2 linked regions of the Homo sapiens genome follow. The protein of the gene in region 2 interacts with the protein of the main gene of each other region in a pairwise test. Each region holds a gene or a part of one and is shown on either strand. Other genes may lie near its edges.

Region 1 (15,655 bases), on a different chromosome or scaffold from region 2:
TCACCATGTTGGCCAGGATGGTCTCAAACTCCTGACCTCAAGCGATCTGCCCACCTTGGCCTCCCAAAGTGCTAGGGTTATAGGTGTGAGCCACCACGCCCAGTCTGGAACATCTTTTATATGTCTGTCATGTGCATTTCTTTTTCATATCTTTGGCCCATTTTCCTACTGGGTTGATGGTCTTACTTGCCTGGAATTTTACGAAGGTGTTTTCATCCAGGAGGTTAGCTCTTTGTGATATAAGTCCAAATATTTTTCCCCGCTTTGTCGCTTGCCTTTTGACTTTGCTCGTGGCATTTTTCACTATTTAAATACTTTTTTATTAATATAGTAGGATTTATCATGGTTTTTCTTTAAGAATGAGTCATAGTTATAAAATCTTTGGCTTATACTTTCGTAGACTTTAAACATGTTGTTCCATGGCTGTTTTGCTTTGTATGTTGCTGTTTAGAAGTCTGTTGCTAACCTCTCCTTTCTGTCTGGAAGCCCAGAGGAATTTTTCTTCATCATTTTGAAAGTCCAACTGTTTTACTAGGACATGACTTGGAACTGACCATTCTGGATCAATTTTCCCAGTACACAATGAGCCTTTTCAACATGTAGATTGGAGTCATCTCTTATTTCCAGAATGTTTTCATGGATTGAAACTTAACTATTAGCTTTGCTATTGTTTTTTTCTTCTTAGGAACTCTACTTTTACTTATTTTCTATATCAATCACTTTCTATTACTTTTTAACCTTTCTTCATTTAATTTTCATTATCTTGGTTGTTTTCATACCTTTTCTCAATGCTCCTTATATTCAGTCCAATCTTTTCTTATGTACCTTGGAATTTAGCTTCATTTCTTTCTTTATGACTTTTTTTTTTTTTTTTTTTTTTTTTTTGAGACAGGAGTCTCTCTATATTGCCCAGGCTGGCCTCAAACTCCTGGGCTCAAGCCTCTCAAATAGCTGGAACTACAGGCATGCACCACTGCATCTGGCTTTAACTTCATTTTAAAAGCTGATTTTTCTTTTGATTTATTTTATTTCCTGAGTTCAGTAAATTCACTTTTCATATCTTCCTCTTTTTGTCCATTTGTTTTGCAGTTTTGAATTTGGATTTGAGACTTTTTATCTCTACAAATGTTAGTTTAAGGATATTTTAAATTCTGGTAGGAGTACTGTGCTGTAGTTTTCTTTAGTGCTATAGTTGGATGTTTCGGGAAGACTTTTCATCAGCTAAAATTTTTTAAAAACTTTTTTCCTTATTTTTTGTAGAGACTAGGTCTCACTATAGTGCCCAGGCTGGGCTCGAACTCCTGGGCTCAAGTGATCCGCCCACCTTGGCCTCTCAAAGGGCTGGGATTACAGCTGTGAGCCACTGTGCCCAGCCCAGTTGAAATGTTTTGACTATCATTTTGTTTTCCAGCTAAAGTAACTTTATATGGATGTTGCCTGCCATCTTCTGTTCATCTTGAAATATTTTATTTTTCCTAAACCAGATATAGTTGTGTATAGGCAGAAGCAAGGAATTTAGATGACTTAACTGGATTTCTTAGTAAATAGTACCTAATAAAGTGTTTTTTTGTTTGTTTGTTTTTAATTAATGACTCCTTTTTGGGTGGGAGAAATGAGTATCTATTTTCTATTCTGGTTCACCAAGATCCTTAATTTCTACTACCCCTTCTCTCTATCACCAAGCCTCCAGGTAGATGGTGACCCTTCCAAGGCACCCTCTTTCCTTTCCCCAGAAGCAGTACTTTCATGAGACTGCGTCTTTGGTCTCATTTTCTTTCAAGTCTCTTATTTTGTCTAATGGATCTTACACCTCTTCTCACTTCTCTATCCAGGGTGGGGCTTTCTCTTTCTGGGAATTATCTGTATTCTGCTACCCCTAGGTCCTGCAACCTCTCCTCTTTTTTTACAGTCTCCACCTTGCTTGCCACTTCTCCATGGATTCTGCTAGACTGCAGTGTTGATTTCCCTGCATGCCCATAGACATTTTGCTAGCTATTAATGTATGCTTACATATCAATAAATTTGTATGGGTTTTCTCTTGTTAACCTACTGTTAGTTTAGTTCAGCCAACTCAGTTATCAAACCTTCAGAAGCGAAATTTAAGCTTCCCTGCAAATTGCTGGTTATTATTTAATATTATTTTGACACAGGGTCTCACTCTGTTGCCCAGGCTGGAGTGCAGTGGCGCAATCACAGCTCACTGTAGCCTTGACCTCCTGCGTTCAAGAGATCCTCCGACCTCTCTCAGCTTCCTAAGTACCTGGGACTACAGGTGTGTGCCACTACGCCCAGTTAATTTTTTTATTTTTTATTTTTTTTAAGAGACAAGCTTTCGCCATGTTGCCCAGGATGGCTGGTCTCAAACTTCTGGGCTCAAGCAATCTTCCTGCCTCAGCCCCGCAAAGTGCTGGGATTACAGGCATTAGCCACCGTGTCCAGCTGGTATTATTTTTATTAGTGTTCTATCTTGCACTTCTGAGTATGTTTAAGCTTCCACCTGTCAGCTTCAAGGGCTTTTTTCTCCCAGCTAATGCCTAAAAGGCAAACAACCTTATTCTACTTCTCATTCACCCTCCTCTTTTCCTCCCATTTTTTTGCGGGTTATATTATTTCTACAATGTCAGACCATGTAATATTTATATACTATTCTATCATCATTATCCTCATCTTTTAATCTTGATGCTACACACAAAATATATTTGATTTGCTCACCACCTGACCTTATGTTGAAGATTTTCCAATCATTTCTTGGTTGTCTGAAATTTGTTCTCTAGTATACGCTTCAGAAGGATTCATGGGAACAATTATAGCCATTTTCCTTGAATTATTTCATGTTTATAAATGTTTGTCAATGCCCTGAATTCTTGAAGGGTAGTTTGGTGAGATAGGAATTATTTTATTTCTTTGAATAAATACTTTCTTAATATCTGACATAAAATGTTGCCACCAAAAATCCAATCTGATTTTCTTTGCAAGTGACCTGCTCTTTTTATTTCCCCCATCAATGCAAGAAGGGTTTATTTTTAAAAATCCAACAATTTTACAGGACCACATCTCAGTGTTAACTGTTGTGGGTTGATTTCTCCAGGTTTACAGTATGCCTTTCAACATATGTTACATTTAAACCTACTTTAATGTTAAGCGTTCTTGAATTACAGTCCTAATAGTTGTTCTGGTCCATTGCTTTGGCTTGCTTTGTTTTACTGTAGTAAAATAAGGAACATAAAATTTACTGTTTTAAAGTATTCAATAAGTGGCATTAAGTATATTCAGTGTTACATAAACATCACCACTATCCTTGGGCTTACATTTGGGGAACTCCATTTATATTTATTCTGGCTCTCTTTGCCTGTCTTGTCACCTCTTGACTCCTTTTTAAAAATCTTTTTATTTTCTTCATTTTTCCATTTTTCTTATCGTACTTTCTGTGATGTATATTCACTCTTGGTTTCTAATGCAATCATCACTTTAAACTGTCTTTTTCTTAATCTTTTATTGAGTTTTGTCTGCTCTCATTGCACCTCCTTCTATGGTCTAGCCATCTCATTTCTTTTTTTCCCCTGAAAACATAGAAAGAGGTGAATTTTATTTACTTTTTTATAATTTCAAGTTCTCTTTTAGATTTGGGGGTACATGTGCAGATTTGTTACATGGGTATACTGTGTAACGCTGAAGTCTGGAGTATGACAGATCCTGTCATCCAGGTACTGGGCATTATACTCAACAGTTAGTTTTTCAACACTTATTGCATTCCTTCCCTGCATAGTATTCCACGGTTCATATGTAACCAATCTATCCCTGATGGACACATAGGTTGATTCCACATCTTTGCTATTGTGACTAGCACTATGATGAACATATGAGTGCATGTATCTTTTTGGTAGAACAATTTCTTTTGGATATACACCCAATAATGGGATTGCTGGTCAAATGGTAGTTCTGAGTTTTTTGAGAAACCTTCAAACTGATTTCCACAGTGGCTGAACTAATTTACACTCCCACCAACCGTGTGTAAGTGTTCCCTTTACTCTGCAGCCTTGCCCACATCTGTTGTTTTTTGACTTTTTAGTAAGAGCCATTCTGACTGGCGTGAGATGATGTCTCATTATGGTTTTGATTTGCATTTCTCTGATGATTAGTGATGTGGAACATTTTTTCATCTGTTTATTGGCCACTTGTTCTTTTGAGAAGTGTCTGTTGATGTCTTTTGACCACTTTTTAATGGGTTTTTTTTTTTTTTTTTTTTGCTTGTTGAATTAACTTCCTTATAGATTCTGGATATTAGACCTTTGTCAGATGCATAGTTTGCAAATATTTTCTCCTATTCTGCAGGTTATCTGTTTGCTCTGTTAATAGTTTCTCTTACTGTGCAGAAGCTCTTTAGTTTAATTAGGTCCTACTTGTCAACTTTTGTTTTTGTTGCAATTGCTTTTGAAGACTTAGTCATAAATTCTTTCCCAAGGCTGATGTCCAGAATGTTTCCTAGATTTTTTCCTAGGATTCTTACTGTTTGAGTTCTTACATTTAAATCTTTAATCCATCTTGAATTGATTTTTGTATGTGGTGTAAGGTAGAAGTCCAGTTTTGTATGTGGTGTAAGGTAGAAGCCCAGTCTTATACACATGGCTAGCCAGTTATCCCAGCACCATTTATTGAATAGGAAGTTCTTTCTCCATTGCTTCCTTTTGTCAATTTTGTTGACCAGATGGCTGTGGGTGTACAGCTTAATTTCTGGGCTCTCTATTCTGCTCCATTGGCCTATATGTCTGTTTTTGTACCAGTACCATGCTTTTTTGGTTACTGTAGCCTCAAAGTATAATTTGAAACAAGCTACACATTCAGTAGCACTGAATGTGTAGCTTGTTTTGGGCAGTATGGCGATTCTAATGATATTGATTCTTCCAATCCATGAGCATGGAGTGTTTTTCCATTTGTTTGTGTCATCAATGATTTCTTTCAGCAGTGTCTTGTAGTTCTTGTAGAGATCTTTCACTTCCTTGGTTAGAGGTATTCCTAGGCAGTGTGTGTGTGTGTGTGTGTGTGTGTGTGTGTGTGTGTGTGTGTATGGCTATCGTAAACAGGACTGCATTCTTGATTTGGCTCTCTGCTCCAACATTATTGGTATAGAAACGCTACTGATTTTTGTACAGAGTTTGTATCCTGAAACTTACTGAAGTTATCAGTTCCAAGAGCCTTTGGTGGAGTCTTTAGGGTTTTCTAGGTATACAATCAGATCATCAGCCAAGAGAGATAGTCTGACTTCTTTTCCTATGTGGATGCCTTTTGTTTCTCTTGCCTGATTGCTCTGGCTAGAACTTCCTACGTATCTCATGTCTGAGCTCTTATTTCTGAATTTATGTGGTTCTTTCAAAGATTTCATCTTTTCCTTAAATTCTCTTAGCTTACTCTGAAATATTTAGATTGTCATTTTCATCTGCTTTGTGGCCACATTTTTGGGGTATGTTTTCATAATCTCGTGCAATGTTTTATGGCTTATTTTGATGATTTTCTTATAATGATTTAGTGTATATATATATATATATATATATTCCCTTTTCCCATATATTTATATAACTATATACTAAAAGGAGGTTCCCGGCTAGGTACAGTGGCTTATGCCTATAATGCTAGCACTTCGGGAAGCCAAAGCAGGAGGATCACTGGAGTCCAGGAGTTTGAGACCAGCCTGGGCAACATAGCAAGATGCCATCTCTCCAAAAAATTAGCCAGGCATGGTGGCACATATCTATAGTCCCAGCTACTCTTGAGGCTGAGGAGGGAGGTTCACTTGAGCCTGGGGGGTCAAGGCTGCAGTAAGCTGTGATCATGCCACTGTATTCCAGCCTGGGCAACATAGCGAGATCCCATCTCTAAAGAAAATAAAAAGGAGGTTCCTATGTTACACTGTATGGACATGCTGGAGTTTAAAAAAATCTATTTCCTAGTGGAATCTGGTTGTTTCCAGTTTTGGCCATTACAAATAAAATCGCTATAAATATTTGCAGAGCAGCCAATATAGGTTTTCATTTCACTTTTCATCAGAGAAGCATACAATCATCAAAGGGGAAATTAAAACCACAATGAGATACCCCATCATACCTCATATAAAGGCTAAATATTTTAACTGATAATGCCAAGTGCTGACAAGGATGAAAAACTACTGGAACTCTCTTATCTTGGTGGTAAATTTCAATCTAGAGTGGGCTTGCCAGATCATGTGATAAGGATATGATTAATTTTATAATAAACTGTCAAATTGTCTTCTAGGTGGCTGTACTATTTGCAGTCTCACCAGCAAGACTAAGGTTTCTCCTTGTTTTGCATCCTTGCCAGGAAATGTATTGTTTGTTTTGACATTCTGAGTAAGAGGTTGTGTAGTATCTCACTGTGGTTTTAATTTGCATTTTTCCAATGACGGTGGTTTTAATTTGCATTTTCCCAATGACTATTCTATACTTCTTTCATTTAACACAAAATGGTAACCACTTTCCTATGTCATTCAACAGCCTATGCCACTACTCTTTGAAAACGTTCCTTTTAAAAGGCTGAAAAATATAATGATGGGATGTGTCATAATTTATAAAACCATTCTTCTACCATTAGATATTTGTTATTTCCAATTTTTCACAAGAACAAAATTACACTGTGATTATAAAGCTTTGATTCTATCTCTATTTCCTTACAAGTTTCTTAGAAAAGGTCAAAAGGTATATGAACTTTTGTTTCTCCATGCATTTTGACAAGCCAACTGGAAGATACAAGTCAAGTGGAAGATACAAGCATGGAATCAAGTAATTAAGAAAAATGATTCTCAGGCCAGGTGCCGTGGCTCACACCTGTAATCCCAGCACTTTGGGAGGTGGAGGCGGGCAGATCATCTAAAGTCAGGAGTTCAAGACCAGCCTGGCCAACATGGTGAAACCCCATCTCTACTAAAAATACAAAAATTAGCTGGGCGTGATGGCCGGTGTCTGTAGTCCCAGCTACTCAGGAGGCTGAGGCAGGAGAATCGCTTGAACCACGGAGGCAGAGTTGCAGTGAGCCGAGATTGCACCATTGCACTCCAGCATAGGCGACAAGAGACTCCATCTCAAAAAAAAAAAAAAAAAAAAAAAAAAAAAAAACATCAATTATTTTGCTGTTTGTTTTGTTTTTTGGTATTCCTGATGCGAGATGTCTTTATCATGTATTGTTGATTAGGTTGTTCATCAGTTAATCTTGAATAACTGAAATCTAAGCTGAAGGCAATAATACATCGGCTTTCTTTTCATGCAAGTCAAACTGCTAAAATCTACCACAAAATATTAGCCTTTCATCAGCTTGGTCTTCAGATCCAATACATTTTCCCCTCAAATGAAAGACAATGCAATGCCATCCACAACAATGCTAAAAAAAAAAAAAAAAAAGGAGGAGGGAAACAAGGTTAAGTCCTGTCTTCTTCCTCCTACCCCAAAAAGAGCTCAGAAATTAAGGTGCTTTCCCTAACAAAGCCTCCTCCTGCTCCATGAAGTGACCAAGCATGTCATGGCAGACCCAGAGATTTATAATCTTCAACATATCGTTATCGGGGAAATCAAGATTTGACAAAATTCTTCCTTCACGCCCCGTTTCTGCAAGACCACCACTTTCTAGCTTAAAATAAAGAAAAAAAAAAGACAGCTGCAGGAATGCTTGGCTGCCCGCTAATGTACAATTTTGCCCAAACGCAGAACTTGACGCCCACTATTACCAAAGGATGGCCTTAGTAAAGTAACCCCCGCGAAGAGCAAACTGTTTAGCAGCCGCTCCCTCGAAAAGGACGGAAGAGGAGGTCTCTTCTGAACCTGAGGATAGTAGAGAGGCACTCCCCTTCCACTACTAGCTTTGCTCCTTTCTCAATCAGGCAGTTCATCAGCTAGCCTCCTTTGTCAAAGGGGGTTGATGGTCAGAATCTTTGCGAGACAAAAATTACTAAAAGAGCTCCCAGGAACCAATGTTAAGGCATCAAAGGCCCCGCCCAGCCCCCACAATGATCAACAAACCAAAACCTGGGATCCCTACTATTACCACCACCACAACCATCACCACCACCACCACCACCATTCCTCGCTCTCTCTAGCCAGGGATGAGACTCAGGCCCAGGAAACCCATCCTTTCCGCAAGTAGGAAGGCGCTGGGTCTCCTCCCTTAGGCCTCTCCTTTACCCCATTGTTCTCTCCGGACCCCTCCACTACGGCCAGGCGCTATGTATGTTTTCAACCCCCAAGAAGCCCAGTCCCAGCCACACACAAGATGGCAGCCTCACACCTACCGGAGGAAACAGCTGCGCCACCACTCCAGTGATGCCGGCCTCTCGACTACGAGTAACTCCATTGGCTCAGCTACAGTGCGCGAGACAAGCCGAGAGCGCTAGCAGTCAATCGGGAGGCGGCGCGCTCGGGCGCCACTGCGGTGCCAGCGGTAAGTGCGCCGAGTCTCTGAGGCGTGAACCAGTGGGGAGTGCGACCAATCAATGGGCTCCTGGCTGGGTGGTGGGACGGCCGGCGTCCGACTCCTCCCATGTAGTGATCGGTTTAGGTAGGTCGGCCTGGTCCCCGGCGGAGGTTACGCCTTCCCTCATCCCCGGTAGAGGCAGGGCGGGACTGTTGTGGTTGAGATGAAGGCTAGTAAATGGTGAAGTACTTCCCGGCCAGAGGGCACCTGCGCTCGGGAGGTTTGGGCGGCTTGGCGTCGGAGGAGAGCCCCACCCGCGGAGGAACCCAGCCTTGCCAACGGAGCTGGCGGAGCTCACTCCTCAGGTCAGGCGGGCGGCGTAGAAAACGCAGCGGAGCCAGGTGAAACCAAGGCACCGCCGTGGCTGGCCCCCGACAGTTCCTCTAGCCGGGAGGTTGGAGGAGCTGAAAACGCCGCGGAGCCCTCGGCCGCCCGAGCAGGGGCTGGACCCCAGCCCTTGCAGCCTCCCTTCTCCTGGCACCCAAGTGCAGTCCTGGCTGCAGAAGGGGCCGCGGGCGCACTGAGTTTCCAACCTCCATTTCAGCCTGTCTGTCTCAGGGTGCAGCCTTAATGAGAGGTGATTCCTAAGCTGCTGGGAACCTGAGGTTGTCAAAGGGGCGGCAGGAAATGGACAGCAGTATAAAACCCAGAAGCAGAACTTGAAGGTTAAACCACTAGCCCATTTCACAGGTAAGATTACACGAGCCCTTAAATACAGCAAGTTCAGTCATTCATCCAAGATCATGGAGTTCAGATTAGATAGTAACACTTCTGACTCGCTATCAGCCACAGCCCAATAAGTAATTAAGTAAGGAAAGATATGTAATTAACTGTGCTCTTTGGCATGTGGAAACCTGCAGTGAGCTCTGTAAATACTAACACATGAGGCCAAGGAGAGGAGTAAATTTGAAGAGGTCAAATGGAGTAACCAAAGCATAGGCTCTGAAACCATGCTGCCTGGTTCCTTATTTCGTGTCTGCCACTTACGGTATGGCATTCCTTAGCTTCCTCATCAGCAAACGAGCTGCTAATTTAACCCACATGACTGTTAGGGGGATTAAATAAGAACACGTGAAGTAGTTAGAAGCGTGACTAACCCGTGGTTCTTAAGCGTGACTTAACCCGTGGTTCTGTCGTTACAATTAAAACGTAAGGAGCCGAGAGGAAATGGTAAACGTGTTTTTAAAGCCTGTTTTAGAAACGAAAAGGAACCATACATTGAAGCAAAGCAGACTGGCTTAATTATTTTTCTACCAAAATGAAAAAGTGAGAAGGGGAAAAAAGTTTTTTAAGCCCATTTACTCTCTGAAATATTAACACCAGTTGTCTCTGGATGATGGGATGGTGTTTAAATTTTCTCCTTTATGCTTTATTGTATTTTGCAGATTTTCTCCAGGAAACATGTTTTACTTGTGCACGTTCAGTTTTCAAATTTTCAGGTGTGAACGCTGGTGAGAGCTGCTTAAAAACAAAGCTATGGGCCGGGCGCGGTGGCTCACACCTGTAATCCCCACACTTTGGGAGGCTGAGGCGGGCGGATCACCTGAGGTCAGGAGTTCAAGACCAGCCTGGCCAACGTGGTGAAACCCCGTCTCCACTAAAAACACAAAAATTAGCCGGGCGTGTGGTGGCGGGCCCCTGTAATCCCAGCTTCTCGGGAGGCTGAGGCAGGAGAATCGCTTGAACCCGGGAGGCAGAGGCTGCAGTGAGCCGAGATCACGCCACTGCACCCTTCTCACTGCACTGGTGACAGAGCGAGACTCCGTCTCAAAAAAAAAAAAAAAATCTATGGCCGTGCGCGGTGGGTGGCTCACATCTATAATCCCAGCACTTTGGCAGATCACTTGAGCCCAGAGTTCAAGACCAACCTGGGCAACATAGACCTCATGTCTAAAAAAAAATAAAACTATTACTGAGTGTGCTTAGGTGGAAGTATAAATTGGTAGAACCTTTCTGGAAGAGAGTTTGACAATATGCTATAAAAAGCTTTAAAATGAATTCCTTTTTGAACATTTATATATACTTAATTTTTAAAAATTAAGTACACTTTTACATTCTTTTACAGAATTGGTACCTTGTAGATAAAGAGCACAATCCAGATTTTGACCTTGAGTTTTTTCTTGCGTGTCAAGGTTATACTTATAAAAACAGTTGAATAGCTTCCCGTATTTTTCCTTCTTGAAAGTTCGTATATGATAAAAATTCTCCGTTCTTTGAAAGTTTTGTACAAGGAATGTTCCCTCACTCCTCTCCCTCCCTACTCCCGCTGGAGACTTTGGTACAGAGCTTTCAAGTGTTTTTTAATACTTACACCTTTTAATACTGTTACATATTCTATATAGGTGAATATATACATTTGTAATTTTTTAGTGGAAAAATACTATACTACATCATTCTGTAGCTTTATTTCTTGACATTGTTTTTGCAGCCTGTACATGTTATTTATAGCTCATTATGTTATTTATGGATCATTTCTTTTACCTGCTGCATAGTGTTCCAGTGTATGACTGAATTGATCTGTTAATATAAAACATTTCTTTGTCTCTTTTATTGGTCTTGTTGTTAAATCCTATTTTGTTTGATGTGTGCTGTATAGCACATTTTATTGCCATTCTCTGAGAACATTAGGTTTCCAGTTTTTCACCATACAACAATGCTGCAAGGAAAATCTTTGTGTTTTCTTGTGCACATGTGCTATTTCTCTAGGATATATACCTAAAAGTGGAATTGCTTGGTTTTAAGTTGTGAGCATTTTTAGTTTTAATAGGTCATGCTAAATTTGCCTCCAAAAATACCTCTACTAATTTACATGTTCCACAGGTAGTTTATGAGAGTTAAGTTTCTCTACAGTTTAGACTAACATGAGATATTATCTTCTTCATTTTTGCCTAGTGATGGCTGCAAATTATATTTTTAATTTTAATTTTCATTCTGTGATCTAAGATTGAAGTGTCTATTATGTTTGTTAACCTATAATTTATATGCATTTCTATAGTTTTTTAAAAACATGTTTAAGTTCTTTATGTGTCCTCGATACTGTATTTTTAGAAGTCTCTTTGGTGTGTATGGTTAATTATGCCTCCTTTTTGTTGCTATTGTTAAAATATGTTAAAAACATTTTCTCTTAGCTTCTTGCTTGGCTTTTGACTTTTTGTTAACTTATTTGTTCTACAGATGGATTTTCCTCTGCCAATCTTTAGGCCTCTTTTTATCTTACTGAATTTCTCTAAGACTTCCAGTACAGTATTGAATAAAAACAGTGATAGCAACTGTCTTCATCTTGTGCCTAATAAAAATTCTCCGAATGTTTCATCATTGAGTATGATGTTTGCTGTCATTGAGTAGGATGTTTTGGTAGATAGCCTCGATCAGAATAAGAAAGTTCTCTTTTTTCCTAATTTGCTAAGGGGCCCCCCCACCTTCCATGGAATAATTTTATATTGAATTGTTTTGTTTTTCTGCATGAAGTGATAGTTTTCCTCCCTTTGCCTGTTAATATAAGCATTCACATTGATAAACTTTTCATGTTAAACTTTTTAGGTATTCTTGGGATAAACTATTTTGGTAATACATTCTTATTCTACTGCTGGATACCTTTATTCAGTATTTTTGTGTCTAAGACCCAGTAGTGATTTGGGCCTTGAGTTTTTTTCTTGCATGTCAAGGTTATACTTATCTCATAAAAAAAAGTTGAGTAGCTTCCCATATTTTTCCTGCTTCAGAACAGTTTGTATATGATAAAAATTAGCCGTTCTCTGAAAGTTTTGTACAATTCATCTGTAAAAGTTTATGGACCTAGTGTACTAGCAGTGAAAAAAATTTCATATCTCATAAAAAAAAATTGAGTAACTGCTTAAGAAAAAGTTGAGTAGCTTCCCATATTTTTCCTGCTTCAGAACAGGTTTGTGTTTGATAAAAATTATCTATTCTTTGAAAGTTTTGTACAATTCATCTGTAAAACTTAATGGACCTAGTGAACTAGCAGTGAGGGGTGGGGATGTGTGGCACACATCTCTAGTAATATCTTCAGTGTTTTGAGCCTATTTGGTAATTTATATTTTCCTAGAAAATTGTTCAGTTCGTCTGTGCTCAGGTTCATTGACATAAAACTGTCTGAATTTTAAAATGTTTAAAATCTCTTCAGTAGCTAGAGATCTATCTTCATTTGTTATTATTTATTTTGTTGCTTTTTTCCCAGCTTCTTTAATTGAATGTTTAAGTCAATATTTTCATTTTGCTAATAAAATTTATTTAAGGCCTAAATATCTCTTGGCATGCTGCTTTGGCAAAATCCTTCAGGCTTTGAAATGTATTACTTCAACCGATCACCATTTCTAAATGTTCTTAAATTTCTCCTTTGATTTCTTCTGTAAACCATATACATTATTTGGGAAATTTGATTTTTTAATTTCCGCAGGTAGTATGGGGTGGGGGGTTGATTTACTACATTCAGTGACTATGCTCTGTGTAAACAGTCTTTTGGAATTTGTTGATAATTCCTTTTGGTCTCATAATAGTTTTTGTAAATTTCATGCTTTTCCTCCCACAAGAAGTATTTTCTGTTGGGTGCAGGGTTCTATATATTTTTTGGATTAAGCTTGTTAATTTGTCATTTAAATCCTTTATACTCTGGTTTTTTACCCACTTTATCTCAGTTCCTTAGATTTGTTACTTCATCACCAAATTGTGGATCTGTGCATTTTCCTTTTAATTTTGCTTTATATATTTCAGAGTGATGTTATTTGTACATAAAGGGTCATGAATATTAAATCTGGTGAATTGTTCTGTCAGCATAAAATATTTGTGTCTTTTATTGATTTTCATATTCAACTCTTATTTGATACGTTTCTTCTTATAATTGCAGATGTCTTTTTCCAGTCTCTTCGTTTTCAGCCTTGCTGTGACATTTTGTGTAATTTAAGTGGGTCTCTTATTTTAAAATATCATATCTGGGTTTTGCTTGCCATCCAATCTGAGAGTCTGCCCTTTAATAGGTAATTCACCTTTATTGTGATTATTGACATATTTTGGCCTTATTCTTGTCATTATTTAACAAGCTTCTCTTTGTATCTTTTATATCTTATTTTTCCACCTGTTTTTTGGAACAGAGTCTTGCTCTGTTGCCCAGGCTGGAGTACAGTGGCGTGATCTCGGCTCACTGCAACCTCTGCCTCCCAGGTTCAAGCAATTTTCCTCCCTCAGCCTCCCAAGTAGCCCAGATTACAGGTACACACCACCACACCCAGCTAATTTTTGTATTTTTGGTAGAGATGGGATTTCGCCATGTTGGCCAGGCTGGTCTTGAACTCCTGACCTCAGGTGATCCACCCACCTCAGCCTCCCAAAGCGCTGGCATCACTTTTATTTTTAATTGAGGTTAGCCCCAAGTTTTCTTTGTTCATTTTTTTTTAAGTTGATTAACTTTACATTTCACAGTTCTTAAATTTATGTTTTCTTAACAAAGTGTACATTTAGTCAGTTTTGATAAGGCCCCTGTAAAGAAGAAGTTAGCATGCTTCTACTTTGCTTTCTCTCATCTTGAAACAATCCCTTCCATCTCTCCTCCAGAAAAGAACATAATCTCTCATGATATCTTTAAGAATTTTTCTTTCATTTGTTATTAAATTCAGTTTACATTTAACATTAATGTGTTTTACTCATTTATTTGCTCACTATTGCTACGTATACCTCAGTGCTTTCTTATAGGTTCATTTTTCATCATCAGATACTTATTTCTTTCACAGTCTCTGAGTGACTCTTTGAATGTCTGCAAATGTCTTTTTTTCATCTTTAGTATGGAAAGATAGCTTGGCTGGATATAGAGTTCTGGGTTCATACTGACTTTGCTTTAACATTTTGCATCTGACATTTCTGATGAGAAATCTCATTACTAGTCTAATACACCTTCCTTTTAGATAATCTACATTTTTCTGGAAACATCTAAGACTTTGTGTTTTTGATATTCTGAAGTTAGTCACGGTTTGTCTAGCGATGTGTGTTAAGAATTTTATCCTGGTTGGTACTCAGTGGATTCAGTTTGCTTATGTGTTTTCCAGTTCTGAGAAATTCTTGCTCATTATTGCCTCCTCTCCATTTTCTCAATTTTTTGCCTCCTCTTGTTTCCTTGCTCTGTGTTCTTGGTGAATTACTCAACTCAGTCTTCCAGCTTACTAACTGGCTCTTCATGTTAGTCTGTTCTGTCATTCAGTCATCTATTGAGTTTATTTCAACAACTGTTTTTATATCCAAGATAGCTAACTGGCTTTTTTTCAAAATTGTGTGTTATTTCATGGATGAGATTTCCTTCTTTAGCTCAGTCTCTTTCATAGTGTAGCCTTCTTCAGATATTTGAGGACTCTCAGTTGTGCATTAATCTCCTCTGAGAGGATTCCTGCCCATCGTTTTGCTGTTGTGATTGTGGTTGCCATCATCTCTATAGCTTCCCATCTGTTTCCTTTCCCCAGAAGGGCCTTACTGACTTGGCCCTTAGAGAGTTCCCTTTTTGTTTTCAGCATGGCTATATATATATATTTTAAATCTCCTAACATTTCCATGGTTTGGTGTGGAAGTGGCAGAAGAATTTACAGTATCTTGACTAACATCTTGAGAATTAAAATTGTTGATCTATTTTTGACCTATTATTCTACCTCCAGATATGTTATCCTAGGGAAATTGCCAGAGATATGTATAAAGTATATTTATTTTAGCATTATTTATTATACTAAAAATTAATCTATAAAGGAAAACAATCTAAATATCGAATATAGAGGTTTATATTATTAATTAATATTTTTATTAAAATTTAATTATTAAAATATTTAATGTACTATAATGTATGCGTTATTGACCAAAGTATGTTATACAGCCAGTTGTATTATACAAAAATATTAGTGATGGAGGAAAATGCAGGAAATGTTTTTAATGAAAGATTATAAAAAATTAAATATACTACAATCCAAATTTTTGTTTTAAAACTACATTCTGAAAGAATAACAATAATTGGTAGTATTCCTTGAATCTTTCGTATGTCAGGCACATTATATGTAATTAAGTCTTGTCCTCAGAACAACCTGTGAGATAGTTAGTATTATCCCCTTTTTAAAAGGTTTATAAAAGACTTATAAAATGGAGATAGTAATATAAATACAAATATATTAAATATGGGTGATAGGATTGGGTGGGC
Region 2 (16,018 bases):
ATGAAAGCAAATTGTATTGTTCCCAGAAAGTGTCATTCCAGTTCTAAGTTGAAGTAAAAGCATATCATTTGATGACAATTCTTGCAAAGTCTTAAAACCTGTGTGACGAGTATAGTAGGTTTTATGGCACTCATTTGTAGTACGAAGCTGGACTCCAACTGAACATGGATCCATCATTCTTGATTCTAGCAAATTTTCCGTTTTATTTTGTCTGGAGGTTTAGGTCATGGGCTGATCACCCTAGAGAAAATATTAAAGAGAATCAAATTTGTGCTGCAAGTTTATCTAGGAAACTGAAAAAGCATTTGATAAAATTCAACACCTATCTAAAAGAAAATAAGGAATAAAAAAGGTATTTATCGAAGTCTTATAATAGACATTTAATAATCAAACAGAAGCGTTCCCTGTAAAGTCAGAACTTCACGAAAACATCTGCAATTACAGATTATATTTAAGACCACATAAGAATTAAAAAGGAGGAAATAAGAAATATTATCCTAAGATACATGAGAAATACAAGAGGTTTAACAAACTATTAGAACTAATAAGAGAATTCACCAGGGATGCTAGAAACCAAAAAACACTGTATCTTACAAAATATGTGACTCTTACAAAAGACATACAACAAGACCTTCATGGAGAAAATTATCAAACTGCAAGACAAAAACGGTACCCTAAATAAATGCAGCTATATATCATGGAGTGGCTCATTATAAAAAATATGTCAATTATCTGGGAATACATCTGTAAATTCAGTTCTGTTACAATCAAAGTTCCATCAGATATTCTACTGCCACCCCCTTGGAATTTAGCAAGCTGGTCTATATGAAAGAGCAAAGGTCTAAGAAAGCCAAGGTAATCCTGAAGGAAAATACAGTAACATATTGATTTACTTTAAACCTATTCTAATTAAAACTATGGTATTGGTATAGTATAAACAAACAGATCCATGAGTAGATGAGGGCTCAGTATATGACATGTGGTACTATTAATCGATGGGTATCACACACTAATGAAGAAGGGACTTTAACCATATGGAAAAACAATTAGATCTCTTCTGCACAAACAAAAATCAATAACAAGTGGATTAAAGATTTAAACATGAAAAGAAAAACTAAACATGTTTATGAGAAAATAAAGAAGGTTTTCTGACATGGAAGTATGGAAGAATTTTTCAAACAAGCAAGCAGATACCAAAAAAATAAATAAATAAAAAGATGGATATATTTGATTATATGTAAAATTTACACATTTCTGTATAACTAAAGGAGAAAAAAAAAGACACTTGAAAGGTGTTAGGATTATTATCATAAATATTCGAGTAACTCCTCACTTCCAAAAATCAATTAGAAAATGACAGAGTCCACTGGAAAACTAAACAAATATAGTCAGGCAATTCACAGAGAAAGAGAACAAAAGCCAATACATGCATACAAACTGTTTCCCCCATAGTTCCTAGGAAAATGCAAATTAAATATCATTTATTAAACATTTGCTTGAAATCAATTTAAAAATCTGATATCTGGTTAAGATGTGTCCAACTCTCACATGCTCCTTATAATAACTTTGGTAGGAATGTAAATTGCTGCAACTGCTTTAGAACATTTTCTGCAATTTCTTGTAAAACTGAGGAAGCATACACCTTGGGACTCAGCTCTTTTCAGTTCTGGGTGTCAGATGGAGAAAAATATCTCCAATAAGAGCACAAGTTATATACGAAAACTTTCAGCATTCACTGCCTTTGGCAGTGAAAGATGACAAATAACCTAATTGTAAAGGATGTGAAATCGTTACTCATACAAGGGACTCCCACATAACAGTTAAAATGAATAAACTACATGAATTACGTGAATCAACATGAATAAATCTCAAAGACAATCTTAAGTGAAAAAAGTTGTAAAGGTTATATAGTATCATCATTAAAGGTAAAATTTAAAAAGATAAGATAGTACATAAGATTTACAGATGAAACATGAATATATACTAAAATATACATAAGAGTAACATATATCACATTTGTGGATACTTCTGAGGGGAAAAAACATTATTTTCCCCAAAAAGATTTACAGAAAATAAGGTTTGGTGACATGTACATAAGTGCTTCACTACTGTCCATACTTTCTATTTGAAATTTTTCATAAATAATTTTCAAAGCAAATTAAAAAAAAAAGTTGGATTCTCAAGAAAATATGCAACCAATGCAACTCATTAGGAAAAAATCTGCTGTTGAGAAAAAATGTGAACCACTGAAATCTGAGTGGTAGGGAGGGACTGTGAAGTCTAGGATTCAGCAATTTTACAAGTGTTTTTAAGCTTTGCAAAATTAAAAAAAAAACAAAAACTGGAGAGAAATCTTAAACACATTTTGATATGGTTTCTGCAGAGAAAAACAATAATCAGCAAAATCATATAAAAAGAAGACTCTGGCCTCAGGTAACAAAAAATGGCGAATAAATGTCTGTGTTTTAGGTCAAAATACTGTATTTACAAAGTTAAAAAATAAAATACACTTTAAAGTGTTAAAATATGTTACTGAACATTTTAACTGAAAAAAGTTTTAAAGCTGGTAAAAACAGAGTATATTTATATTCATTTACTGTGTTTTAGTCAGTTTTTAAAATGAACTAATACAGGTCCCAATCAAATCAGATAAAATGGCTTCTATCACAGTAATAATTAGAAAAGTTTCTTCTAGCCAGGCATTGTGGCTCCTGCCTGTAATCCCAGCACTTTGGGAGGCCAATGTGGGTTGATCACTTGATGCCAGGAGTTCTAGACTAGACTGGCTAACATAGTGAAATCTCGTGTCTACTAAAAATACAAAAATATTAGTCAGGTGTGGTAGTGCAGCTATATGGGAGGTTGAGGCATGAGAATCGCTTGAACCCAGGAGGCGGAAGTTGCGGTGAGCCGAGATCGTGTCACTGGACTCCAGCCCGGGCGACAAAGCGAGACTCTCATCTCAAAAAATAAAAAAATAAAAAAAATTTTTTTTTTCTTCAAACAGATAATTGGATTAAGATAAATTAAGGAGGAGAAAAAGGAAATCAGAGGTAAAGTTACAAGGCAACGAACTATGTGGCAATGTATATTAGCAAATAAGGGACACAATCTGGCTTTGACCTTTCTTATTTTTTATATATATTTTTTGAGACGGAGTCTCGCTCTGTCGCCCAGGCTAGAGTGCAGTGGCGAGATCTTGGCTCACTGCAAGCTCCACCTACCGGGTTAACGCCATTCTCCTGCCTCAGCCTCCAGAGTAGCTGGGACTACAGGTGCCCGCCACCACGCCTGGCTAAATTTTGCTTTTTTTTTTTTTTTTTGTATTTTTAGTAGAGATGGCGTTTCACCATGTTAGCCAGGATGGTCTCGATCTCCTGACCTCGTGATCCGCCTGCCTCAGCCTCCCAAAGTGCTGGGATTACAGGCATGAGCCACCGTGCCTGGCCTGACCTTTCTTAATACAAGGGAAACTAGGACAACTATCCCTCATCACTGTACAGAAAATAATGCTTAGTATTTTGTTAATGCCAGAGATTCTTTTTATTTGGAGGTAATCATCACCAGTTTTTAGCCACAGATCTATAATGGAACTTTTTTTGCCATAAAGCTATTTCCTAATATTCAAAACTTGGGCTACCATGGTCATATTTGATAGGAAAAGCATCTTGGATTTAGGAAACTAATTACTTTAGAAACCTTATCTGTCCATAGTAATAATACATTTTTACCCTTTAGGGTAATTTCATTTACTCTATTAATTTTAATTTTAGGTAAAAAATTCTTTTCCTTAGTTATTGGGGAGTCTCTGTTCCATTAGTTTCCTTTATTCATGGCTAAATTACTACAAAATTCAACAGAGTTCATCATGATTAAAGGAAACTAATGGAATAGACTCTGTAACTTGTGCCAGTGAAGTTGAATACCTATTTCTGAAATTCCTGGCCTCAAGTGATCTTCTCACCTCAGCCTTCTGAGTAGGTGGGTCCTGTAAGTTGTTTACAGGAAGTTCAGTTTTTCTTAGTAACAGGCAGCACATTGAGCTAGCACCAAAGATCTCTACTTACTGGATGCAGAAAATGGGGTCACCAGACTTGGCAAATAAAAAACGCAGGATGCCCTGTTAGATTTGAATTTCAGACAACGAATTACTTCTTTACAGGATCAGCTCATTTTAAAATTAAAATATCCTATCTGATAGAAGACATTGCCAACTGTGATAAAAACTAAATTTTACACAGATTAAAATTCAGCGGCAAACTAATCCCACTCACTTGAGTAAAACTGCACACACCTGAGTAAAACTGCACACACCTGAGTCAAGGTAGTTTTAAAGTCTTCCATAGGTTAGCTTTCTGATCTACGATTAGGCAGTTTGTTCACATACTGTCAAAGAGTCCAAGTCCAGCTAGCTCAAGGAACACCAAATTTCAGACACTGATCCTAAGTGGTCACTGTTTGCATTCTAAAAATCACACCCTCTGGTTGTTCCTCCTCTGTTATATTCCTCAATGTTCTCATTTCCAGCTCTTTCTGACTTCCTCCTATAAGCTAAAGTTCTGCATTTGGGCCTGTTTCCTAGCAACTGTTTTTGCTCATTTTGGTCTGTGTTCTGGCAATGTGGCCTACAGTTTATATTTTGTTTTCTTCAAATGACAGTCCAGCAAGTTCATATTGTTCCTTTCACCTACAGTACAGTGCTATGTTCTTCCATAACGATGATTTATCTGGCCCCTTCCTTAATATAGTTGGAAATGCATTACTGTTTACTCTCCCTGAATCAGCACTGGCATCAGCTGAGACCTCAGTAGAAATACAGAATCTCAGTATCAGCTCCAGACCCAATGAGTCAGGATCTGCATTTCAAAAAGATACCCAAGTGATTTGTAAGCACATTACAGTTTGCTATGTACTGCTTCAGATAATTCAATTAAAAAATTTAAATTTAAAATGTTTTGATATCTTCTATATTTTATAGAAGATAGCAAAAAAGAGTAAGAAAAACACAGATATGTATTTGCCTTACAGGAAGTCTAACTCTAGGGAAGATTATTGAGGGAGAGGAGATTTAAATTCGATACACTAAGGACAGAGAAAAACATCTGCTTCAATAGAAAACTGCACTGTTGAGAGCACAGCCTTTCAGGTTTTCACATTCTGATTACATGGGAAGTCTGATTCTTTCAGCATCTTGGAGCTATTTTACAACTGTCAACTGTAGATAACCAACAGCAATGCAAAATAATTGTCTGTATTCTTGTAAATTCTATCTGCTGAAGGTTCAATGGACTTCCGTCTGACTGTGGAAGCAGCCAATTTTGCCCTCACTTGCACATTTATTTCAATATTCCTGCTCTATAAACATGTCTACTTTTAATTGTCATTTAAACTGGTTATAGCATCTTACCAGTTCCTATTTTAATAATCTTTTAACGCAAGAAAAGATTAATTTGCTCCAAACACTTTGGTCAATATAAAACCTAGTACTCTTCATGGAAGAAAAAAAATCCAGCTTCTTATAGGATAACAAGCAAACCAATAACAAAAACCCCAGTTTTAGAAAGATTCACCATGGTATAAATAAAATCCAGGTTTTCAATACTTTTCAATGTCAAATAATAAAAACACTTTTTGGCAAGTTGAATTTTGCTTGAGCCCTGTGCTGGCTCCTTATTAGCTATAATTTAAAAAATCCTCCCACCCTTGAGTTAGGTAAGACTCAAGGATCCCCCCTTGTTTACCTATGACCAGGCAAAAGAAAGACCCTCCAAATTCTCATTTTTTGCTTCAACTATGAATTTATGAATAATTTGCTGATCTGCTTGGCCCTACAGATCAAGTGGAACAAAATACTTGTTAATCAAACTTTAGTTTCTCTCCTTCCCCCAGGTTCCTGAGCTTTGGCCAACTCTCAGCCAGAGCCAAGGAATAACATTCTCAGATCTACTATTAGATCAAGCCACCCTTATATCCTACTTCCTCACACCAAAACTTTCTAGCACAGTTCACTCCTTGGAGATTCTTGCAGATCTTTTGGTTCTACCCATTGCAAAAGTCCCTTTTCTCCTTTTGTGATAACCCTTTTGAATAAAGTCTCTCCTAAGTCCAGATTTCTTATCTGACATTGTCTTTTAAAAATTCTGCATAGGAGAAAATTAAGACTTTCTGCTGCCTTAGGATTGACATCACTTTACTTTAGTGCCTAAATACAGCATGTTTTGTATTCTAAGATTAACATTTAATATTTTTGTAGCACTACCTAAGAATCAAAAGAGAATGAAATAAATGTAGAATACTTTGATTAGACCTCTCCTACTACCTTAGGCAGTAAACAAAAGTATTTGCTCCTCATACAATTTGAACGCTGCCAGCTCAGGGAATTATCCAGCTTTACTTTAAAACATCAGTAGTTTTAAAGAGTTCTTAAGCATTTTCTCTTGCTGCCCATTACCAAACGGTAAGGAAGGTAGATTAGGTTGAGGAAGCTGAGAAAACTCACACGCGGCCATGATGCTTGCAAGGTCTAGGACATTATCACAGGGGTTTCGGGGTGTTAATGCAGAACACCCCCCCCACCACTAACAAAACAGCAAAACAGCCACTAACAAAACAACAGCAGAGGGAATTGAGGATTAATTAGGGAACTCACTTTTTCTTCCTAAATTTGTAGGGGAGATGCAGAAATACCCGTTCCAATATGTTAATTTCCCTTAACATAGTTTTTTAGTTTGTTACCAGTCTCCTTATTAGTGGGAAAAGTAACATTTAGAGGAAATTTAACAAAACAAAAAATTTACTTCGTTTTTAGGTCAACTGATGTCTCTTTTATGAAAAACATAAAAAAAGTTTTCATGAAATGTTTTATGAAAAAAATTAAAGGCTTTTCTTGGCATAGGGTCTTACAACTTACACAGCGTCTTCCCAGATTATCTCTTATTTAATAAAAATATAATTTAATCTACCCCTACTCCCCAAATCAGGAGCTTTAGTTATGGGTACATACGCCTACAAAAGTCACGCATCCTGCAACTGTGAACTTTTTGTGCCTGTCATCTTCAAATACTGATTACCTATAACATGACAATTGGCCCAAAGGCAAAGAGGAGAGTCTCAATCCTCAGGAAGATCTAGGTACAATAAGAAAGGTAAAGGCAATTTAAAACAAAAATATAGTCCATAACACCATTGAAAAGATTTGGTTCAAGTGTGGTAGTCAGGACATGCCAGGTACAGTGCTTAGGGCAAACATCATTTCAGGAACCTTCATAGCCACCCTGAGGAAAGTACTATCATTCTCATTTACAGATGAAGAAACTCAAGCCTAGAGCTGTTGTTATCATGCCTAACAGAGTGCCCCCAAACCCTGCAATGATTCCCAACCCAACCCTGTAAGAGGCCACATACATTTCTTCCTTAGTTCACGGCTATTTACAAATGACTAAAACCACCAGATCCGTCCAGTGGGCACCTACTAAGTTCATGGTACCGGGATGGAAAAATAAACATTAGCCTTTGGCCTCAAACGGCCAGGGTTGAAAGGATTCTGATTTGAAAAATTAAAAACAAAAATAGCAGAGATAAAGGCTGTCTACGGAGTTCAAGGCCACAATAACCCTAAGTAGTTCACGTCAAAATCGTAGCTTTGAAGGTCCTGGGCCTACAGGACAGGCGACGACCCTCAGAGAGGTCAGAGGCGGCAGAACCTGTGCTGGGCTTTGACACAAGGCGTTGCGTCGCAGATGAACTACGCGGGGGTAGGGGTGAGAGGCCCCGGCCAGCAGCTGGAAATCCCCCTCACGTGTGCGGGCCTCCTCTTCCACCTCTCCCCGGGTTCCCCCGTTACGCCGCCGGGCTCCCTCGCCACCCAGGGGCCTGTCTCCACTCTCCCACTCCTCTCCAGGGCCTCCCCCGTTCCCCTTCCACCTTAGCTTGAGCTCTCCTCCGCCCGGCTTCGGGCAAGATGCGAGTCCACACAGGCCACACTCGACCGACCGCTTCCCAGCCAGTCCCCGCGCTACCACTGAGAGGACGGCAAGCGCGGGCTAGAGGAGCTCAACGCCACCACAAAGAGACGTCCGGGAGAAGCCTAGAGCGGACACGAGGCTGGCCGCCTCCGGGGACGGAAGGGGCGGGGCGGTGTGAAGTGGCAAATGATTCAAGGCGAGGCAAGAGGTGCTTCAGATGCTGTCTTTTGCAGTCCTCCGAGAGGTTAGGGATGTGGGAGGTCCCTGGGGGCCATCTCTTACAAGACACAGTTTCCACTAAATTGGATCGTATTTGTACATCTCTACACCTGTGCGTGATAGTAAACTTTTGCACCCAAATACCCCGACCCCTGAAGGAGAGTGTGAGTTAAAAGGATCTGAAGAACGGACCCTTTGTTTAAGGTCTCACATTCTATTTCTTTAATTCAAGCGAAATATATTCCAAAATGCATCTTTTATTGTAAGCTATAAAAATAGCTATTACTTCGAGTAAAATGTAGGCTCCAGGAAGATGCTTGTAAATTTTCTCAGAACAGAAATGGTATTTTTATTGTATCCTTATTGTCTGTCACAGTATAGGTGCTCATTAATTTTTAAAGTGGGTTTTATTATCTAGAATCCAGGAGAACTGAAAGTCTCTTAAAGATTCTTGGCCTTTTAATTATCTTAAGGTCGGGATAGCAGGGAAACAAAAACTTGTTTTAAACTCCCAGTGAAAAATGAGGAACAGGTAAATAAGACAAGCCCCACCAAGGCCCAAGCGTGCTAGTAATTCTCTGCATCTACTGTAAGCTGTTTTCTGCAGTGCGTCTATGGTCCTCCCACCACTTTCATACTGCTCGCCGACTAGGCAAGCGATTTGATGCCTAGAACTAGGGAATGACAGAAAGGAAAAAACAATGAATAGTTTCTTCAACTGTGTCTGCAGGAGGTTGCATTCTGTAATTCTTTTACTGTTTACTTTGTGGTTGGCACTTTGTTAAGCAATGATTAGACAAAAACAAAATTTATTTCTGCTTCCAAGGAGCTCACAGACTAGTGAGAGAGGAATAAACAGTTAATCACAGTGTGGTGTGAAAAGTGTCATAACAGAAACACATGGATATAAACAGGATAAAATGATAGGGGCTAAAGCAGGAGCGTTCTGGGAGGAGATTAATGCCTGCATGGAACTTAATTTGATGCAATTGTGACTTCCTAGTAAACTAGGCAAGCTATCCTAAAGGTAATGAAACAGAGAAGGCTCACAGATCAAATTAAGATTATTAAATAATATAGCCTATTCAATTTAAGTATCCAGTGAAAAGGTGAAAGAGTTGTGGTAAGTGGACACACTTAGGATAAGGTGCAAGCAAGTGGAAGGACGCCATCACCTGAATCATGGGTTAAGTAATGTTCATATATCCTATCTGCCACAACAGCCTTCTCCGCTGGTGGTATACTTACGAGGACCAGAGGTGAGGTGTCAGCAAGGAGGCCCACAGGTGGAAAGTGCTTTGGGCCAATGGTACACACCTGCTTTATTGGATAGACGCAGAGAAGTATGCCTGGTCACAGCCAGAGCTTACTCGGTAAGTTGTTGAACAGATACAGGTTTTATTTGCATTTCCTGGGCAGAGCACATATGAGACTATTCTAAGTGTGACCAATGGGTGGCTGATTTAGAGGTGACATAGTTAATAGCCCAGAGATGTCATGATTGCTCATTGCTTAGTTTTTCCATCCCTTTTTGGCTATCAGTGACTCTCTATTCCATCATATTTCTATTTAACTTTGGCATGTCTTATAGTTTACTAACTTACTCTATATATTTTACATAATCCTGCCTATGTTTCACAAAGTACATGCTTACTCATATTCTATATTTAAAATATGCTAGGAGTTTTGCATTTATCTCATAAGCTACTAGCTTAGTTACTGTCTATAGTTAACACTTCTTACGCCTTTCATCCATCCCTAAGGAAACTGCAAAGCCTTTCAGTATGGGTAGAGTGGAAAGCTGGAAAGGCGCATAGGTAACAAATAATGCCCTTTTTATGCCATATTAGAGATACTGAATTTTAACCTGTGAAAACTGTAAAACTATCAGGAGTGTAGAGAATAGAAGAGAGGTGCGGTCCTGGGCTAGAGGGCCAGGTGGAAACTCTTGCCCTAACGCAGATGATTAAGAAGAGGGCCTCCATCAAGTGAGGCAGTGGCTCTATGGGTTGAAATGTGATTCCCTCCCACTCACCTCCTCCCACTGGATTTGGTAATGTCTAGAAACATTGTGGCTGTACCAGCAAGGGGTGCTACTAGTATCTAGAGGGGTAAAGGACAGGGTAACTGCTAAACACTTAACAATGCACAGGACAACCTCCCTCCTCCAACAACAAAGAACTAACTGGCTCAAGATTTCAGTAGAGCCAAGATTGAGAAACCCTAAATGAAGGACATTTAAAAGGCATAGAGATGATAGAAGTTAAGTAAGAATTGGTCAGATTTTTTAACTGATTAGATATAGAGGTTAGGAAGTAGTAAATAATTATTTCAGGTTTCTAGCTTGGATAACTGGGAGGTCAAAAGGAGGAATGGGCTAGGGAGAACAGAGATAAGAATTTAAATACTGAATACGCTAAGTTTTCTCAAACTTATCAAATGTACCTCCAAGTGAAGATATACAGCTGGCAGCTGGAAGAAGAGGGCAGGATAAGAGAGGGATCTCAGCTGGAAGATAAGAGTTTTGGGAGATGTTAGTCTGTGAGTGGTAGTTCTATCTTTGGAGCTGGGTGGGATAGGGAAGATGATACCTATGGAATGTATAGGGTAAAATGAGAAAGAATAGGGCTAAAGATTATTCTAAATTTCTGAGCTCTCGTTCTATTTTACTGAATCAGAATCTCGGTCCTCCAAGCCAGTCTACCAGATCATAATATCTGCAGATAAGATCCAAGAATCTGCATTTTTGGCAAGCAACCCAGGTGATTTTGCAGCACACTACGATTTTAGAACAACAGATTTAGGTCTCAGAAAAGTCTGAGAAGGAGCAGACAGCGAGGTAGCAAGAAAACTAGGGAAGAACAGAGACCCACAAACCAAGAAAGGAAAGTTTAAAGCAGGGCTCTGTCGGTGCAAGAGGTTGTTATAGAGCAGTACTGGCCATTAGAAATACAATGTGAGTCACATAAGCCATTGTAAATTTTCTAGTAGTGATATAAAAAGGTAAACAGAAGCAGATGAAATTAATTTTAGAGATAGCGCTTGTTTAACCCAATAATTAAGACATTATCATTTTAACATGCAATTAACATAAAAACTAATGAGATATGTCACGTCCTTTAATTCATATTATGTCTTGGAAACCTGGTGTGTGTATTACACCTCCAGTGCCTCTCAATTTGGTCTAGCTACACTTCAAATATTCAGTAGCCGCATGTGCCTAGTGGCTACCAGAGTGGATAGCACAGGTGTAGAAAGTCAAGTAAGGAAATAACTCATTTTCCAGCTCAGACTGAAATGAACTAGAAGGAAAATAAAAAGAACTAAATATATTCCTTAGCTGTACTAATAAGATAGTTATAGATGGTGTAATAAGACCTGTTTCAGTGATATGGTGATGGTAGAAGTCAGAATATACCCAATTAAAGAGCGGGAAGTTAGAGATGCTAACAGCTACCTGAGAGAACATCTTCAACAAGCTTTACTGTCAAGTATAAAGAGGCACCCCTTTTTTGTGTCTTTGAATGTGAATTTTAAGATTAAAGAACACAATTCAGTTTTAATTTAGGTTTTAGCAATTACATTTGGATTTCTGCTTCTGCAGAATTACCCTATCACTAGAAATATCTGGAAAATTGAGCATAATATGTGAAATGAATTGGGCACGGTAGCTCACAAGTGTAGTCCCAGCTACTGGAGAAGCTGAGATGGGAGTATCACTTGAAAAAAATATATATTTTATATATTACATACATGTATTTACGCATATATATAATATAAAATATATGATATGTATATATCATTTTATATATATTTATATACTGAATATGTTATATATAATATATAAATATATAGATATATAAAATATATGCATATGATAAAATATAATATTTATATTTTATATACATATATAAAATATATATTATAAATATATAATATGTATAAGATATATAATATATACACACATATATACATTCATATAAATCATAAGTATGTATACTTATACATATTTAGGAAAGGGTTGTATATATACATATACACATATATGTATGTATCTATGAAATCATTGTTTTCAGACATTAGCCAACAGGCAGTGCAGTATCGTGATCCCTGAGAGAAGGGAAACGAATGAATTAAGTTCCATAATGACCCCAGCTTACTATCTGGAGGCAGTGTCCAGAGCCTAGAACAGGGAGGGGAACCCAAACAAAAACCGGTGATTTCACTAAATGGAGGCGACAGAGATGGAGGTGACAGAGATGGGAAGTTGGAGAGGCTGATGGGCAGAGTATCTGAGAGGAGGACATGGCACACAGGAGAGTCTTGGACATCTGCAAGAGTGTTCCTTTGTATTGCGTACTTCCCTTTGGCTCTGAGTACTTATCTGTGCAATGGAAGGATGAAACTCCACGAGGCTAGGGAAAAGACACCAAAAAGCAGTGGGCCAAACAGTTTCTAGTACTTACACAGGGCTGGGAATAGTTTGTCTTCCCATAAGCAGGAGCAGATTGACAGACCTTGTAAGAAGCACTTATTTGTTTCTACCAATCAAAGTAACAGTAGGAGCTGGGCCAGGTTGGTCTTTCTCTCTCTCTTTCTGTCTCCACGTGGGCTCTTTGCTTAGGCTAGTTTGGTCTTCCTCACAGCATGACAGCCAGAAGGTAGTTGGATTTATTACATGGTGTCTCAGAGCTCCCAGGGTTTGTGCTCCAGGAAGCAAGGTGAAAGCCTCTTTGCCTTTCATGACTTAGCCCCTGGAAACACATAGCGTCACTTCCACTGAATTCTCTTGGTTATGTGGGAGTCATTGAGCTTGCCCCAGATTCACAGGAAAGAAACATAATCTTTACCTCTTGATGGGAGGAGTGTCAAAAAACATATTTTTTTAAAATGCTACAATACTTATCCTAATGCATACAATAGCATGGTCTGGTGTCAAATCTAATAACTACCATAATTGCAAAGTAGTAATGAATATGAATATATCCTGAGATATCTGTAACAACTATAATGTGACACAAAAAATTATGTGATTTCTGTTGGTGACAAAGTTATAGACACTGTAAACAAAGTTATTAGTACTGCAGCAGTACTAATAGGCACTGCTAATACTATTATTTGTTGCCTGCCTTTTGTAAATAAATGAAATGCTAAATTTCAATTAGAGGTTAGGAAAAATAAAGAGAAAGCTTGCTAGGGACATAGAACAGCATTTAGGACCTAGATGAAGTTAGAGACCATGAATATGCAGAGACATAAATTAATGATGTGAAAATTTCAATTTTTCTCCTAGTGTATAGTTGCCCTTGTGTGGGACCAGTGAAGGCAGACAACAGAATTAATTTAAGCAAGAGCAGTTGACGGTTAGATGTGTAAGAAGGACAAGAGACAAGAGAGTTTAGGGTTTTTTCATGGAAGTCATTAGATGGTGAGAATCATGAGATAAGACATAAGGTCAGTTTAATTTACTATAGTATTCCAGGAGCCTAGCACTATTAGTTGAGTAAGTGGAATTGTTGAAGTGATAAATCTCTTCAAATAAACAAATGAACGAAAGAGGGAAAGCTGGTTGAGAATGAAAAGAAATGGAGCTTTCAAAATCAAAATTGAAGGCAAGGAGGTGAAATCTGTGATCAAACTGAAACAATGAACAGTTGTGGTCAGAGAGTGGAACTGAAGTTTAGGATATCAGCTAGTGAGGTAGTTTCCTGTGAGAAATTCACAGCTTCTCATTAAACGCACTTGGGAAAGTGCAAAGGAGCCAAGAATTAGGAAAAAAGAGAAACATTTGCATGCAAGAATCCCAAGTTTGGGATGAGATGGCATGTACTCTGAAAGGGAATGAGGGGAATGAATTCTTAGTAATTGTTTTCATTTCCTTTGTGTAAGCTTTCATACTGAATTTTGACATACCACAAAGAAGTACACAAGTTCTAAGTCTATAGCTTGATACATTTTTATATTTGTATAACCACTACCCAGGTCAAGAAATTATGAGCTCCCCAGAAGTCTCTTGTATGCTGTCTCCTAGTTGTGAGCACCTTTTACCAAAGGTAACCACCATTCTAACTTCTTTGACCATAGATTGGTTTTGGTTATTTCTGGACTTTGAGCTTTGGAATTGTACCACATATATTCTTTTGTGTCTGGCTTCTTGTGGTCAGTATTATGTCCTTGAAATTCATTGATGCTGTATGACATCGTAAGCAATTAAATATTTGTCATTGCTGAGTGGTATTTCTATTACGTGAAACCGACAACATTTTCTTTTATCTCTTTCACTGTTGATGGACATTGGGTTCATTCAATTTGGGGCTTCTACAAATAATGCTGCAACAAACATTTGAACATTCTGTCTTTTGGTCCACATACATTTACACTTTCATTTGGATATGTAGTAGGGAGTGGAATTGCTGGATTATAGGCAATGTGTATGTTCAGTTTGAGTACATACTGCTGAAGAGTTTTTCAAAGTGGTTGCATCAATTTACATTCCTTCTAGCACCAATTTACACTCATAAACATACTCACCACCACTTGGAGTTCTCAGTTGTTATTGTTGGCTTTCATTTTAGTTATTCTGGAGGGTGCGTAACTAATTGCTTTCTAAAGCTTCAGTATCCTCCTTGGGGCATGAAACAAAACTCTAAGTGGGCTCTGGAATCAGACTGCCTGGTTCAAATCCTGGCTTAGCCACTAGTAGGATAATGTGTAGAAATTACATTAATTCTCTAAGCTTCAAATTCTTATCTGTAAAATAGAGAAAGTAGCATCTGCCTTATAGGGTTTTTGTGGGGAATAAATGAATATGTGTTTGTGTATGTGTGTGTGTTTGTGTATAACTTTTTATATATATAGTTTAGCATAGTGCCTGGCACATAGTGAGTTCTCAATAAGTGGTAGCTATAATTATTCTTGCTACTATTTATGGACCTCCAGTTATGTCTGAAAACACTGGAATGATAAGCTCACATGTATTATCTCATTCATGACATGGTATATTTCAATCTGGAAAGATGGGTATTAAATTTAAAAGAAGTGGAGTCATTATTTGAACTAGTATCCCCTAACCTCACACCCACCTTGGCCTTGCTTTCCTTATAACAATATTTAAGAGTCAGTTGATTTAAAGAAATGTGATATAGGGGATTTAACTAATGACTGGGCAGAAGGACAGATTGAAACTGTGTTTTTCAGCAGTTCTTCTGATTTGTCTCATTTAAAGTAAAGATTTCAGACTGTTGTGGGGGTGGCGTAGGGGAAGGAAATACAGATTTGTTCACAGCTGCTATTCAAAATACTAGCCATATAACTAGGAAAGAATTTGGCTCAAATAAAAACCCCAGGGCTCTTTATTGCCATCACAATCATTATTGTGTCAATTAGGATTCATCTGGGTGTCCACAGTGTGTTTGGCACAACGTCAAGGAAGGAAGCTGATGGTTACAGGAACCATTTTGGTTACATCTTCGAATGACCAAAATGGTGTGAATTAAATGCAGAAATTAATTATTAAAAATTAATAATTCAACAGCACTGGGAACAAAAAAACTAGAACTGGAAAAGGATTTAACAATTCTGTTGCATAGCTTCCTCATTTAGAGGTTGATGAGACTTAGTTCCGTAAATGGTAATGTTATACAACTAACATATAAATGACAATCTGTAAAGCTTGTACAACCAGTAAGTAATAGGGATAGTCAAGACTCACACCCAGGTTGTCTTTCTAAAAATGCAGTGTTTTTCCTACTCAATCAGGCTGCATCTCAATCTGTAAGAATCATATTCTTAGAAAACTAGAAAACATAATATCTATTTATAATATTAATATCAAT

Evidence for each region.
Region 1: the proteins of ARL14EP (region 2) and SETDB2 interact in binary tests that used the Homo sapiens proteins (3 or more experiments, as listed by UniProt).

Annotation. Positions count from the first base shown.
Region 1 is NC_000013.11:49,435,696-49,451,350, forward strand, and holds the start of SETDB2 (histone-lysine N-methyltransferase SETDB2), read left to right. Parts: upstream 1-8,578; 5' UTR 8,579-9,162; intron 9,163-15,655. UniProt on the Homo sapiens protein: Histone methyltransferase involved in left-right axis specification in early development and mitosis. Specifically trimethylates 'Lys-9' of histone H3 (H3K9me3).
Region 2 is NC_000011.10:30,315,108-30,331,125, reverse strand, and holds the start of ARL14EP (ARL14 effector protein), read right to left. Parts: upstream 8,023-16,018; 5' UTR 7,924-8,022; intron 4,121-7,923; exon of another isoform or gene 4,068-4,120; intron 241-4,067; 5' UTR 178-240; coding exon 1-177.